2 separate regions of the Homo sapiens genome follow, and region 2 is linked to region 1. Evidence: fine-mapped expression QTL. Tissue or cell type: monocytes. Region 1 holds a variant in brackets; the other region holds the start of a gene. All regions are shown on one strand. Distances are from middle to middle.

What was found. PIP is the estimated chance that this variant, and not a neighbour inherited with it, causes the effect.
Region 2: EDC3 starts here. The variant in region 1 is fine-mapped to the expression of EDC3 in monocytes (Quach 2016, PIP 0.91).

What each region holds. Positions count from the first base shown.
Region 1 is chr15:74,431,279-74,439,378 of GRCh38, forward strand. It overlaps SEMA7A (semaphorin 7A (JohnMiltonHagen blood group)), which reads right to left and starts at 2,680. Exons shown (of 14, transcript NM_003612.5): 1 at 2,463-2,680. The coding sequence starts at 2,640. RefSeq lists silencers at 1,843-1,962, 2,113-2,262, 2,313-2,822. The variant T/G (reference allele first, on the strand shown) is at 4,746.
Region 2 is chr15:74,691,276-74,699,375 of GRCh38, forward strand. It overlaps EDC3 (enhancer of mRNA decapping 3), which reads right to left and starts at 4,749. Exons shown (of 7, transcript NM_025083.5): 1 at 4,605-4,749. RefSeq lists an enhancer at 4,709-4,798.

The DNA of each region.
Region 1 (8,100 bases):
AAGGACACCCAGCAGGTACATGATGGCCCATCTCTCTCCCTGGCCTGAGCTACGCTGTGCCAGACTTTCATCAAGCTGCAGAGGCAGCAATCTCCCTGATCAGTGCAGGCTGGGCCCCTCTCAGAGTTCCCTGCTTTAATCTTTCTCTAGAACTTGGGGATCCAAGCAGCAGAAAATAAAGAACTTTCCATACCTATTCCAGTCCCCACAGCTGTCCTGACTCAAAACTAAAACCCCCATCTATGCCTCATAGAGAAATGGCTCCAGAACCACCACCATCCCTGATTTTGTCATTCCTGGATACCACCATACTCCCACCCACCACTGGTAGACAGAGCTCTAGGCTTCCAGAAAGACCCCCTCTTACCCTGTTCCTGGGTTTGTCCTACCCAAGCCCATTCCTGTCCGATTGCCATGTGTCACCCCACAGGAGACAGGAGGCAGCTGTCAGTCGGGCACACCATCACCAGCTGGTGGCCCTGGGGGTGGGGGGCAGGTGAATGGCAGGGCCTGTCTGGCCAGTGGGGCACCTGGCACTGGTGAAGGAGACCACAGACTGTCGTTGGACAAGACTGGTGAACGGTTGGCAGACCCCAGCCAGCGGGGCTCAACAGTGCATTACTAAGCAGAGGGCACAGCCAGTGTGGCTACAGCAGTGAACTGCGGGCGGGGGGGTAGGCCATGGAGCTGTGCTGGGAGCTTCGAAAAGTGGGTAAGAGGACTGAAAGCAACTTTAAATAGCCTCAGGGTGGGAACTAAGTGCCCAGGATGGGATGTATGCATTAAGTGCTAAGAAGTGGGTGTGCATTAAGTGGGGTGGGGGTGGGGGGTCATGGGAAGACTTTGGGACAGGCAAACAGAGTCAAAATGCAAGGGGTTTGATGGAGGGAAAGATTCCAGAACACTCAGATGTGGCCATTTGTCCCCTCCAGAGTGCCCACACGCTATGATGTCCAAGACAGCCAAGGAGACTGAGGGAAGGCAAAGCTGCTGGGAGGGCAAAGGAAGCTTGGGCTGGAGCTGGGATGGCAGAGGGGTGTGCAGGCCTCCTCCATGTACAGGCGGCCGGAGCTCTAGCAGCACTGCTCGGCTTCCTCCAGGAGCACCTCAGGCTGGGTAGCCGAGCTGGTCCCCAGAGCACCTCATTCATGGTCCCTGAACCACCTAAATCCTTCTCCCCTCCCTAACCCAGAACCTGGACTGGTCCTGTGCCAGATCAGAGCCCCTGCCTGCACCTGGGCTCCCACACTGCTCAGTGACCTTGGGCAAGTCACATTCCCTCAGCTACTGCGGCAGTTCGGGCCACTCGTTTTGTGTATGGTTTTTTTTCCCCTCTGCTAATAATACCTGCCCCAGATAATGCTCAGACTCCCGCAATCCCTGCAAACTGCCAAAGGCATCAAAAGGCTCCCGGTGGGGCCAGACCCGACCAGTTCCCCCAGCCCCCACTGCGAGTCCCCCACCATCACGACAGGGGGGCCGCAGACACGCCAAATTTGGGGACAGAGCCGAATCGGACTGGGGGCGGGGAGGCATTTGTGTGCAATGCAGGGGAGGGGAGATCAGTTCCTCGCGGCAGAAAGCCTCAAACCCCCGCCTAACCGGCTTTCTGTCCCATAGTACAGGGTCTAAACTGAGGTGCCCTGGGGGAGACTCCAGTCCCCCAGGTTCTTATTATCTACCCTGGCCTAAAGGCTGCACCCCCGCCCTAGATCCACCGCCTGGGGGTCCCAACGGCCGTGCCCCACCCAACGGGCACTGCCCCCCAACGCTGGAGCCGATTTCTGGTGACAACTGCCACGTGCGGGCAAGGGGGGAGCGGCCGGTCCCGGCATTGCTGAGGCAGCGCCCTGGTACCCCAAGCCGCCGCACCGCACCATGTCCCGCCGCTCGCTGCAGGATGCCCACCCCCTTGCCTGGCCCGAGCTCCGGGCCGGGGCGGGGGCGGGGGCAGGCGGCGGGGTCTTTGTTCCCGCTGCCGAAGCGCGGCGGCGGCGGCAAGGGGTCCGCGCCCCCCTTGCCGGCCCAGCCTGCGCCCCGCGCGCCAGCAGAGCCCGCAGCTCAAAAGGAGGGTACCCGGGTTGGGGTCCCAGGCGGGGAAAGGTCCTCCGCCGAAGCCCCCGAGCCAGAGGACCCAGAGTGGCTCGGGGCCGAGAGAGGGGCCCGCCCCCTCCCCTGGCGCCCGGGCGTTGCGGCTCCTGGCTGCCAGGGACTTGGTGCGACTTAGCCGGGGCTCCGGCCCCCGCCGCTCGCTCGCCGCAGCGTTACAGCCGGCTCTGGTGTGCCAGCGTGTACACTCACACACACTCACCCAAACCCACACGCTCCACGCGGGGACAGCGCGGGGACAGCCCGGGACCCGCAGAGCTGCGCGCACGCACTCCCTCCGGGTGCAGCACACTCCGCACCCGCCCCGCGCAGCGTCTGATCCCGCGCCTGACCGGCCGCGCGGCGCCGCCTACCTTTCCAGACGGCGAAGATGCGGGGTCCGCTCCTTAGGTGGCCCTGGGCGGAGGCGGCGGCCGCCCAGAGCAGCAGCAGCAGCCGCAGCCGCAGCGGAAGCCCCAACCGAGCCGGCGGGCCAGGGACGCGGGCGCGCGGTGCGCTGGGGGCGGCACGTCCGGGCGGAGGAGGCGTCATCCCGTGGCCCCGGGAGCGACAGCGGCAATCAGCCGAGACTGAGCCAGCGCCCGGCCGCAGGCAGACCCAAGCGCCAGGAGGCGGAGCCAGCGCTGACCCCACCCCGCCCCTCCCCCCGCCCCTCGCAGCCTTTTCTCGCCTCACTGGCTTTCCTGAGCGAGAGCGGAACTGCTGGGGGAACCTTCGCCACCCTCTCCCGGGCAACTCTACGGGGAAAGCCCAGCTGCGGACAAGCCAGACTTGTGGTCTTCTGCCAGGGGCGGCAGGCCCTATCCCCTCTCTGGGCCTCAGTTCCACTCCCCGCACCCCGTAAAAAGATTGGCGTAGAAGTCGTGGAGGACCTCTCTCCAAGGGCGCAGAGGAGTCCAACACCCAACAACCTTGCTATGGCCAGCTAAGTGGTTCGCACCCTGAGGACTATGGTCCTCGGAGGATGCGTTCGCCTAAGTGGACACGGCTCCCTGCTGAGCCTACCAGCAGGCACAACGATGATATGTGGGGAGCACTCAGGGACCCGCTGTTGCTTTGCCTGGGAGAACACTGGAAATTTTTCATCTTGGCCTGGCTCCTTCCCCTCCCTCTCCTTTCTCCTCCCTTTCCCAGCCAGCAGCCTTCTGGGCTGCCTCCCCCCAAGCCAGCTGGTGTACGCTCAGAAAATCCAAACTCATTTCCATGTGAGTGGAGGGGGATATAATTAGGAAGGCCCCTTCCCCAAGTAGAGAGGGGAGCATCCCCCGTGCCCCACTCACTGTGGGGGAGGGAGGGTCAAAGCAGCTTAAGGGGATCTCTGCCCGCAAAGTGCCTAGGGCTCAGCTATCTCAGGCAACCTGACCATTCAGTGGGGACTCCCTTGGGGGGTCCAGGCCCAGACCCTCTGCAGTTACCTGAGCAGTCCAGCCAGCTCTGCCATCAGCTCCTCCTCTCAGAACTACGTGCCTGCCCTTTGTAAAAGGGTCTCCTCTCTCTAGACCAGACAGGGCCCAGACCTACCACTTCCACTTGTGCCCCAGGGAACCATGAATGGAAAATCCACCCAGCTCAGTAAGTACTTATCTAGTGTTTACTGGATGTCTAGCTGCACTGAGAGGAGACAGGCCGAGGAAGGAGTAGAGGTGAACATCCAACCTTCAGAACTCACAGACCTAGACACGATTCACGCACTGCAGACACCAGCAAAGGCGGTGGGCTGGCTGCCCTCTGCCCTCTGCCCTGCTCCATGGGGCCAGGACCATTTGGTTGTTGTTTTTACCTCCTGGAACCAGGAAAGTTTTGCTACCAAGAAGTTTGGCTTTACCATTCTACATTTTGCTTCCAGTTGTCCCCTCCTTCTTCCCTCAGAGTCCTGAGGCACCCCAGCAGGCCAGGAAGGTAAACTCAAGGTACCTCCAGAGACAGTGCAGAGTGAGGTTCCTGGCCCACTGGGTGAAGCCAACAGCCTCCTGATACACAGGGGCACACTGCCCCAGAGAGGGAGGCTGTGGACAGTCTAAGAGCTCCTCCTCAGGCCTGCACCTAAGCCTGTGGCCCTGAAGCCAGCAGTGGAGCCTGGCCCAGGCCAGCCTCTAAGATGGACATTCGGTTTCACCTGCTAGACAGGTATTGCCCTCAGTGTCTGTCCTCTCTATGCAAAGCTAGGGCAAACTAAGAAATCACCTGTCTCTGCCTTTTGGAACTAAGAATTCAAATGGATTCAAAATCAATGATAACACTGCCCATGTGCATGGCAACTCACAACACATAACCCACATTCACCTACCTCATCTCTGCCAGTCCTCCACTCTCTTCCTCTCACTGAGGGAGGGAGCGTAACTCCACTGCAGAGAAGAAAACTGAGGTACAGGGAGGGACAAGGACGGACCTGCCCGAGGTCAACCGGTAAATGGTAGAACGAAGATGGGTTTTCTGACTGCAATAACAATTGCTAACACTGTGGTTCCTATGTGCTGTGCCATCTCATAGCCTCTCCCAACTCATTCAATCTTCGCACTCCTATGAGATAGGAGCTATTAGTCACCTCCCTTTACAAATGAAGAAATCAAGGCACAGACAAGGGATGTGAAGTGCCAGGATCGCACAACTAGAGGCAGGACGGATTGAAACTCAGG[T/G]GGTTTCTCAAGGACCCACACCCTTGACTTCTCTCTGTGTGATGTACCCTGGCACTGCTGCCTCCTGTCTGTGGCTGAAGTCTGGGTCCAAACCATCCCCAGAAGGACCTAGATAGGGCCCAGGTCACCAGGTGCTGAGTAGGAGGGCAGACCAGGGAATGGGCTCAATCTCCCAATCAACAGAGTAGCAGATGGAAACTGGGGTAGATGCCAGATAATTTTTTTTCCAGACTGGGGGGTAGGGGGGAAGGAAGTAGTACTTAAGACCATCCTCCCCACAAGCCAGCCAACCTGGGGACAAAGGGCCAGGCGAGATGGCAGCCCACTCTCTCGGTTGGCTGCAGGCAGCCAGGGGAGGAGAGAACTAAGCCCATGACTTGAGGCAATAACTTTATAAAGGGAAAGGCAGCTAGACTGTGGGGCAGGCACTATGACCAGAGTTTAGGCATGGACTTTCCTGCCTCAGGCAGCATAGGAAAATCAAGTCAGAATGGTATAGGTGGTGTCAGAGGCCTGCCTGCCTCATTGGAGGCCAAGGCTGGCTCTTGAGCCTGGACCAAGAACAGGGGCACAATTCCCACTCACAGCCAGTGATGGGAAGTGGACCAGCAGAGGAAGCAACACATGTGGATGCTGACACGTCTGATGGGGAGGCACATTCTTGTCCCTCCCTTCTCCATGATTCCACATTCAGGGGAGGGAGGAAGAAATGATGCAGGGCTTCTATCGATAAGAAAAATACCTTGAGAAGGATCACTTCCTGAGCCCCATGGACAGCTGAGGCACAGCCCAATCCAAGAAGGCTCCTTTTGGAATGAAAGAAATGGATACACACAGACCTGAGATTCATGGTCTTGAAGCAGTGGCAGAAGCCCCGGGCAATCCCCCCAACATTCCAACTAAAGCCTCTCACCTTTCAGGGTCCAACTTAACTCATCCTTCCATTCTCCAGAGTTATCTGACCTCCTCCTCAGCCCTGATTCCATGGCTACACATGGCCTTCACAGGAGTGACCCACCTCAAACAAGAGGCCTGTGGGAGATAGAAGGATTCCGTGAGGAGATAACATATGCAGACGTGAGGTCACCCACACACAGTTCACTTCCTTTCACAGATACGATGATCCAAGAATCCCAATTCTTAGGATTAGAAGTAGCTCTCAGAGGGCATTCAATCCCCAACAGCCCCCTCCATGCTAGATCCCACCCCTTCTTTGAGGCCTCAGAGCTTGGTGGCCATTCAGACCTCCTGGCTACTAACAGCAGCAACAATTCCTATTGCCTACCACCATTACTACCTATTGCAGGGGGCAGAGACTTGGAACTGATGAGAACGAGGGGAGTGGGTGGGCTGGGGTCTGCAGAACCCTGTGCTGTCTATAAGGCAATTTCGACTCAGCTCCAGCCCATGGAACCATGAAGAAGTAAACCCAGTAGTGAAAGGTAGTATGATTTTCAAGAGAAGCTGAAAATTGAGGGCTGGGCACGGTGGCTCATGCCTGTAATCCCAGCACTTTGGGAGGCCAAGGCAGGTGGATCACCTGAGGTCAGGAGTTCAAGATCAGCCTGCACAATATGGTGAAACCCCATCTCTACTAAAAAATACAAAAATTAGCCGGGCATGGTAGCGAGCGCCTGTAATTCCAGCTACTTGGGAGGCTGAGGCAGGAAAATCACTTAAACCCAGGAGGCGGAGGTTGCAGTGAACCAAGATCGCACCACTGCACTCCAGCATGGGACACAAGAGTGAAACTCTGTCTCAAAAAAAAAAAAAAGAAAAGAAAAGAAAAAAGAGGCCAGGGGTGGTGGCTCACGGCTGTAATCCCAGAACTTTGGGAGACCGAGGTGGGTGGATCACAAGGTCAATGATTTCTGTCCTAATCATTCTACATGCATTTTTATCTGACAAGGTCAGGAGTTCGAGACCAGCCTGGCCAAAATGGTGAAACCCCATTTCTACTAAAAATGTAAACATTAGCCGGGCATGGTGGCACGCAACTGTAATCCCAGCTACTTGGGAGGCTGAGGCAGGAGAATCACTTGAACCTGGGAGGTGGAGGTTGCAGTGAGCTGAGATTGCGCCATTGCACTCCAGCCTGGGTGACAGGGCGAGACTCCATCAAAAAAAAGAAAAGAAAATTGACTCTTTGTTGAAACTCTCTCTTTTAAAATATTGGCAAATAATTCAAAAGTTAAGGAGGATGGATATGGGCAAATAAAAACAGGTCTGGGGCCCATATCTGGGACCCCCAACATACCATGTGCCCACTGTGACTATCTCACAGGCACAGGCACGACAGTCACTATACCTGGCCCAACTCTTGGCAGACCATGTCAGGCAAGGAGTGCCAAGAAGACACTTCTCAGGCTGCCCAGGCCATGCCTCACCCTCCCCTCAGTGCTCTGCCTGCCTCCAAACCTCAGCCAGGACATTCCCCTCAAGTGCCTGCCTCTTCCTCCTAGACCAGTTCAGAGATCACCACCTTCCATACATCAGTTCAGCCCACTGTGAATGGAGAACTTCTCAGAACTGCCACCACCTTCTTAGCCCTGAGGGTCGTGCTCCCAGCAGCATCCCATGCCTACATCTCTGCTTTCTATCCTAATCATTCTACGTGCATTTTTATCTGATCAACCCTACCTAAATTGCTAAGATCTAAGTAGGGCCAGCCAAGTTAAGTAAGACAAAGGAAAAATCCAAAGAGGAATATTCAGTCAGCAGAGAAGAGACAGATTTTTTTTCCTTCTAGCAGGGCACTCAGCTCACCTGAAAACACTACAGGTCCTGTGCCTTCCACAGACAAATCAGCAACATCCTTAGCCCCAAGCCCCAAACTTGGCCAACGTGGCACTGGGCTTGTGGTGGGAGTGCCACCTGGTGGCCACTCTGGAACAGAGCCGAGTCTTAGCAAAGACCAAGTGCATCTCTGCTCTCTGTTCTAGTCATACATTCTACATGCACTTTTCTGTGATAGACACTCCCCAGACTTTCTGGAGACAAACTTCTCCCTCCCATTCCTATGCCCCTAATCCATCTCTGAGCCTCTATTCTCACTGTCCAAAGCCTGAGGCAGGGCAGAATCTCATGGATGTCACATAGAATCCATCTAGACTAACAAAATCTCCTGACTAGACATGGCTGGGAGGCCAAAGATGAAGTCTCAGCCTGGATACTGACTCAAGCAAGGCCCTGACCCAGTCCAGGCCTCTGTTTCTTTGTGTACAAAATGAGAAAGAAGAGCTAAAACTCCATCTCTTCTCCTGGTCTATCTTCTCTCTGTATCAGAGAGAGACAAAGCTTTCTCATTCCATCTTCTGCATTTCCTTCTATAGGATGAATTAAATATGCTTTTAAA
Region 2 (8,100 bases), 260 kb after region 1:
CAATTATACACCTATCTCATAGAACCACTATATGAATTATTTTAAGATACTATATGGATTATTTTAAGATACTATATGGATTATTTTAAGATTAAATGAGATAATCCATATAGTGTCTACAACATAAAAAATTTTAGTTCAAATGTCTCCTTTTGCCAGAAAGAATACCGATCACATAGGGAACTTAAGTTATGGCGCTGTGAGGGCCACCTCACTTCTCACCCAAACAAAATTACAAAAATACATGAATTCCCTCTACAACATCTTGGAAATCAAGTCCTGGTCTTTACACTGGAATACACATGTCCGTAGGGGGTACACAAAGATATGCAAGCAAGGGAATCAACTTCCATGCTACTCTCATAAACCTGATCTGTGTGGATAACTAGATGATCAATTTTAAATTTTCAGGCATAAAATTTATTACTTTAGGATGGGTAGGAAAACTACAGCCCTAAACCAGATCTGGTCTGCTACCAATAAAGTTTTATTGGAACACAACTACACAAAAATACTTGCATATTATCTACGGCTATTTTCTGGGTTTTTTTGGGTTTTTTTGAGACAGTCTTGCTCTGTCGTCCAGGCTGGAGTGCAGTGGAGCGATCTCGGCTCACTGCAACCTCCACCTCCCGGGTTCAAGCGATTCTCCTGCCTCAGCCTCCCAAGTAGCTGGGACTACAGGCGCCCACCAACACGCCCGGCTAATTTTTTTTGTATTTTTTAGTAGAGGCGGGGTTTCACTGTGTTAGCCAGGATGGTCTCGATCTCCTGACCTCGTGATCCGCCTGCCTCAGTCTCCCAAAGTGATGGGATTACAGGCGTGAGCCACCGCACCCGGCCACATATTGTCTATGGCTGTTTTCTCACTACAGTGAGAATTAAGCAGTAATCACAGAAACCATGTGGCCCATAAAGCCTTTCATCTGGCCTTTGACAGAAAGTTGACTTTTGCTTTAGGATAAAATTCTGTGGGAAAAGTGGAATGGATACAAGTTCAAAAAGAAAAAGGAAAAATATGTAATGGACAAACTCCCAAAATGATAAAAATGACCAAAACTAACTCAACTAACTATATTAAGAAATTGAATTAGTAAAATCTTCCCAGAGAGAAAAACCCAGGCCCATAGGACTTCACTGGTAAATTCTATGAAACACGTAAGAAATAATACCAATCCTACACAAACTATTTCAGAAAACAGAGGAGGAAGGAACACTTCCCAATTCATTTTATGAGGTCATAATTACCCTGCTACTAAGGCCAAAGATGACATAAAAAAAAGGAAACCTCAGACCAATATCCATCATGAACACAGTCACAAAAATTAACAAAATGTTAGCAAATTGAATCCATCTATATGTAAAAAGTAGTAGATACATTACTAAGCAGGGTTCATTTCACAAATGCAAGATGGGTTTAACATCTGAAAATCAAGTAATGTAATAAGCTATGTTATGTATTTCTTACAGTCTTTGTTTCAAAAGTTTAGTTGTATGTTTTTACAACATCAAATTGATATTGTATTTAGGTAATTTTATATTTATTTTTAAGAAGTCAATATTTACTTGTCAGAAATTACATCCTAAACTATTTAAAATTAAATACTTACACTATGTAAATCTAGGATGAAAAGTTTCAGGTGCCAACTTAAAAGTATATAAGATCTAACAGATTCCACAGTCTTTTAGACATTCTCAAGAAGAAATGTTTTAAGACTAGTGACCCAGCCTATACCTGAAAGCCTGAAATGACAAGGAGAAAAATAATCATTCATGCCAAAGCAACACCACCATATCTTCAAACTTTTGACTTCTGCCCATAAATTTACTCTTAGCACATCTAGATCTAAACCTAATATTCCAGGTACAAGCCTACCAGTGATGCAACCTTTCTCATTCTAGATTTTGCATTTTCCTGATACAATATACTAATGCAGGTCACATCGGTTCTTCTCACAGCCTTCTTAACCACACCACTGATTGGTGATTAAAACATCACATCTTTTTATTATAGAACTCCTGTGAGGTCACATCTCCACCCTCCCCTAATAGGTATAGTTGATTTTGTTTGGACCCAAGCGCAATTTCTCACATTTATACATGCTTCCTTCATTTCATTAAACAGCACTGAGCAAATTATATTGAGATCTTTTCCCATTCTGGCAATCACCAACCAAATGACTCTTTCTTTACTTCACAAAGGCACCAAATCCAATAAGCAAACCTTCTAGATAAGGTCTCAAATACATGAAGTATATAAAGAAAGTGATGAAACCCCAGTTTAGATCACCGGAATTCCAGCTGTAAGTAGTGTCCACAAATCAAACCTCTCCATACATAGATTTTCAAACTCATGACTCCATCTAACTACCACAATCTGGCAAATTCCTCCATCTCGCCCACTCAGTTATAGTAAGACTCAGTAAGACCAGGCGCGGTGGCTCACACCTGTAATCCCAGCACTTTGGGAGGCTGAGGTGAGTGGATCACCTGAGGTCGGGAGTTCGAGACCAGCCCGGCCAACATGGTGAAACCCCATCTCTACTGAAAATACAAAAATTAGCCAGGCGTGGTGGTGCATGCTTGTAGTCCCAGGTACTTGGGAGGCTGAGGCAGGAGAATCGCTTGAACCAGGAGGCAGAGGTTACAGTGAGCAGAAATTGCACCACTGCACTCCGTCCAACCTGGGCAATGGAGTGAGACTCCATCTCAAAAAAAAAAACAAAAACTTCATAAATGCCTTGCTAAAATTCTGACACACTATCATTATGGTCACTACACTCCTTTGAGCCACAATTTGGATGTCCTGTCCTGTTGTTCTGGCTGAATTTAGGAGAACTCTAGTAAGCCCTTCTCTGGATAAGAAAAGAAAAATGATACATCTTCCATTTTGTATTAATTACAGAATCTCACAAATGGCAAGGATTTTAAACATTTTCTAATGTTGTTTTTCTTAGACAGAGTCTTGCTATGTTGCCCAGGCTGGCCTTAAGCAATCCTCCCACCACTGCACTCGGCCCTAGTCTAATATTTTTCTTTTCTTTTCTTTTTTTGAGAAGTTTAGTTCTTGTTGCCCAGGCTGGAGTGCAGTAGCATATCTTGGCTCACTGCAACCTCTCCCTCCCAGGTTCAAGCGTTTCTCCTGCCTCAGCCTCCCAAATAGCTGGGATTATAGGCACCCACCACCACCCAGCTAAGTTTTGTATTTTTAGTACATACGGGGTTTCACCACGTTGCCCAGACTGGTCTCCAACTCCTGACCTCAGGTGATCCACCCGCCTCAGCATCCCAAAGTGCTGGGATTACTGGCGTGAGCCACAGTGCCCGGCCTTAATATTTTTCAAACTATACGTCATGACCTATTAGGGGTCAGACTCAATTTAGTGAGTTGCAACCAATATTTTTTTAGAGTGCATCTTCTGTAGAAAGGGTAAGTAAACTTTTCATTGGTGTGTGTGTGTGTGTACACACTGAGTGTGCAGGGGCACAATAAGTCATGATGTATAATATATCTAACTGTGGGTCACAGGTAAAAAATTTTGAGACACTTTTCTAGCCCCACAGCCCTATGCCAAGGAGGCTCTACCAAGAAATTGGTAATAAACAAAATGTCATGTTTTTACATCATACAGAGAAACTAGCTAAGAGGATTTTGTGCTCAGTACACGTAATCTGCCATTCATTAAAAAAAAAAAAAAAGATTAGGATCCATCTGGGTGTCCAGTTGAAATACTAAACTGCTTGGAGACAGCCATTTCTGTTTTGGTGGGGTGAAGACCTGTATTTGAGACAGCAGACTGAAATCGGTTTGGTCTGTGGCGAAGGAAGAGAAGAAAAACCATTCTGGGTCGCGAGTTCCTCACCTGTAACCACAGGAGAAGACTGTTGGCTTGGTCAGTTGATTTTCAACTAATCTCCCAATTGAAGAGTTAGGCGAAGCAATTGCTATTGGGAGATTAACTGAAAATTAACTGACCAAGCCAACAAGGACTATGCCTCCCACAAACCAAAACACTTTAACCACTCAGCAAGTCAAGTATTGATACATACAATCAATATCACACAAAGTGTACTGAAAAGAACCACAGACTTGCATCAAAGGCAGAAATGAATCCAGGGATAACTTCCTGGGATTCGAAGATGTGACCTGGTAGGTATAAATTTCTCAGGCATCCTCTTTTTCTACCCTCCAGTTCATCTCCGTCCTCAAGCTATCAGTCATGGATGTGGCACTGGCGTTCTTCTCTGCCACCGTATCTCATTATGCAAAGGGAAACTGAGGCACGAAGAACAGAGTGAGTGAGCCAAAGAACTGCAGCAGCCACCAACAAGGCTGGACTAAGGGCCCAAGCAGCTAATGCCTCACTCCCCACACAATCCCCATACTATTTAGAATCCTGCAGTCCTCAGCCTTCCACCTCAAACCAAACTCCTGGGGCCGCCCGTAGTACGTGGTCCCCTGCTCATCCGATGAAGCCCCCAGCTCTTGCCTGCCTGCCTGCCTCTATAAAGGTCTACGAGGCCTGGAACTCTGAAGCCTAAAGCAACCCCGGCAGCCCCCTCCCACGACCGTCCACAAACCAGTAGCCTCCCTTCGCTCCCACCTCCGCGCCGACGGGCCTGGAGCTCCTCCGCACACCACACCAAGCCGACCACTCAACACCAGAGGACCCACAGAAGAATTCTCTCCACGCCCACCCCCACAGCATCGGCCTTCACCACCGCCGCCGCTGCCGGAAGCGCCCCCACGTCTCCACGCCACCACCGTGAGGTCACTTCCGGCGCGACACCTTGGAATCCAGGGCCGTCAATTGAGGGGCGTGGCACCCGGGAAATTTAAGAGGTTGGAAGAACGTCCCTTCGGCCTTACAGAATTGCGCTTGGGTAGTCATTTTGCCCTCCACGCTTACTTATGTCCTGTGGCGTCTTGGCTGGAATCGGGGCTCTACCCACGACTCCCCAGCCTCGATGCCTGGGCCCCCCTCTTGCAGGCTCGATGAAAAGCACCCGCTTCCCCTCCTGTTACCCCAGCGCCAATCGCAGAGCTGGAGCGGAGGACTTTCAGGGAGGCCTGGTGACGTGACAGCCCCTCCGTGCTAAACTGCAGCTGTGGGACTTAATAAGTGCGACAACCCCCTGATGGATTAAAGAAAACAAGATATTCCTGCCGTGGTCGATCTTCAAAGCGTATCAGCTTCAGCCCTTTTGGGGGTTAAAATCAGCCAGTCCGTGCTTGACTGCTCTCCCTTCCCCCATACTCAGTACACAGGAAAGTGCCGCTCTTCTACCCCTGGCATTTTAGAGTCTTGATTTGTGGGGAGACGGGAAAGCATGCGTTTAGGGCCAAGACCGTGTAATGAGGAATATTGCACAGCCTTGAAGCCTGACACCTGGTTTGGGAACCACTACTTGGGCGAATAGCATAGAGTAGGGTAGCAGTTCCAAACCTAGCTCTACAAAATCAGTTGAAGAACTTTGTAAAATCTACACTTTCTAGGGGACTGCTTCACCCTTCCCCCTCCATCACCAGAGATTCCCTAGGTCAGAAGGGGTCCTTGTCTTTTAAAATTACTGTTATTAATGAACACTTATAGAGCAGTTTTTGGTTCAGGGCAAAACTGAACAGAAAGTACAGAGTTCCCATATATCCCCTGTACACACAGGCACATACACAACTTGTCCCCTCATGGACATCTTGTGCTACAGTGGTACATTTGGTAACAATTGATTACCCAACTTTGACACATCATTATCACCCAGAGTCCATAGTTTACATTAGAGTTTACTCTCGGTGTTGCACATTCTGTGGGTTTTGACATATATGTAATGACATGTATCCACCATTATGGTATCATACACGATAGTTTCACTGCCCTGAAAATCCTCTGTCCTCTGCCTATTTATCCTTCTCAGTCCCCTAACCACTGGCAACCACTGCTCCTTTTACTGTCTCCATAGTTTTGCCTTTTCCAGAATCCCATATAGTTGGAATCATACAGTATGCAGCCTTTTCACATCGGATTCTTTCACTTATGCACTTAAAGTTCTTCCATGTCTTTTCATGGCTTGATAGCTCATTTCTTTTTTGTGCTGAATAATAATATTCCATCGTCTGGATGTGCTGCGGTTTATCCATTCACCTACTGAAAGACATCTTGGTGGCCTCCAAGTTTGGGTAATTATGAATAAAGCCGCTATACATCATGTGCAGATTTTTGTGTAGACATGAGTTTTCAATTCATCTGGGTAAATACCAAGGAGTGCAACTGCTGGATTGGATGGTATATTTAGTTTTGGGAGAAACTACCAAACTGCCTTTCAAAGTGGCTGCATCATTTTGCATTCCCACAGCAGTGAATGAGGGTTTCTGTTGCTCCACATCCTTGTCAGCGTTTTGTGGTGTCAGTATTTTGCCGTTCAAGTAAGTGTGTAGTAGTATCTTATTGTTTTAATATGCAATTCCCTAATGACATATGATATTGAACATCTTTTCATATACTTACTTGCCATGTGTATATCTTCTTTGATGAAGTGTTCATTCAGGTATTTTGCCCATTTTTACATTGTGTTATTTTCTTGTTGTGATTTAAGAGTTCTGGGTATATTGTAGATAACAGTCCTCTATCAGATACGTCTTTTATAATATTTTCTCCTAGTCTGTGGCTTGTCTTCTCATTCTTCTTTTGAAGAGCAGAAGTTTTAAATTTTAATGAAGTCCAGCTTATCAATTATATTTTTCACAGATTATGCTATTGGTATTGCCCTAAAGTCATTGCCATTCCCAAGATCAGTTAGGTTTTCTCCTGTGTTGTCTTCCAGGAGTTTTATAGTGTTCCATTTTACATTTAGGTCTACAATCCATTCTGAGTTAATTTTTATGAAGGGTGCAAGGTCTTTGCCTAGATAATTTTTTTTTTTTTTTTGAGACGGAGTCTCACTCTGTTGCCCAGGCTGGAGTGCAGTGGCACGATCTCAGCTCACTGCAATGTCTGCCTCCTGGGTTCAAGTGATTCTCCTGTCTCAGCCTCCCAAGTAGCTGGGATTACAGGCACCCGCCACCACACCTGGCTAGTTTTTGTATTTTTAGTAGAGGCAAGGTTTCACCATGTTGGCCAGGCTGGTCTCGAACTCCTGATCTCAATTGATCTGCCCACCTCGGCCTCTCAAAGTGCTGAGATTACAGGCGTGAGCCACCGTACCCGGCCTGATACATTTTTATGTGTGTGAAAATTCAGTTGTTCCAACATAATTTGTTGAAAAACCTATCTTTGCTCCATTATATTGCTTTAACTCCTCTGTCAAAGATCAGTTGACTACGTTTATGTGGGTCTACTTCTGGATTGTTTATTCTTTCACCAATACCACATTGTCATTATTACTGTAGTTTATAGTAAGTCTTGAAGTTGGGTAGTATCAGTCCTCCAACTTTGTTCTCCTTTAATAGTGAGCTGGCTCTTCTAGGTCTTTTGTATCTCCATATCAATTTTACAATCAGTTTGTCGACATCCACAAAAATAATATGCTGATACTTGGATTGGGATTGCATCGAATCTATAGATCAGGTTTGGAAGAACAGACATTTTGACTATATTTTCTTTCTATCTGTGAACATGAAATATTTCTCAATTTATGTAATTCTTTTATATCTTTGATCAGAGTTTTGTAGTTTTACTCATATAGCTCTTGTATATGTTTTGCTGTATAGATTTATAACCTGATGACTTTTTTTTTTTTTGAGACAAAGTTTCACTCTTGTTGCCCAGGCTGGAGTGCAGTGGCACGATCTCAGCTCACCGCAACCTCTGCCTCCTGGGTTCAAGTGATTCTCCTGCCTCAGCCTCCCGAGTACCTGGGATTACAGGTATGCACCACCACGCCCAGCTAATTTTGTATTTTTAGTAGAGATGGGGCTTCTCCATGTTGGTCAGGCTGGTCTTGAACTCCCGACCTCAGGTGACCTGCCCGCCTCAGCCCCCCAAAGTGCTGGGATTACAAGCGTGAGCCACCCAGCCTACCTTTTGTTTCTCTAAATCTGCTCTTTCTGAAGTTAGTATACCTACTCCTGCTTTCTTTTGATTAGTGTTATCAATGATATATCCT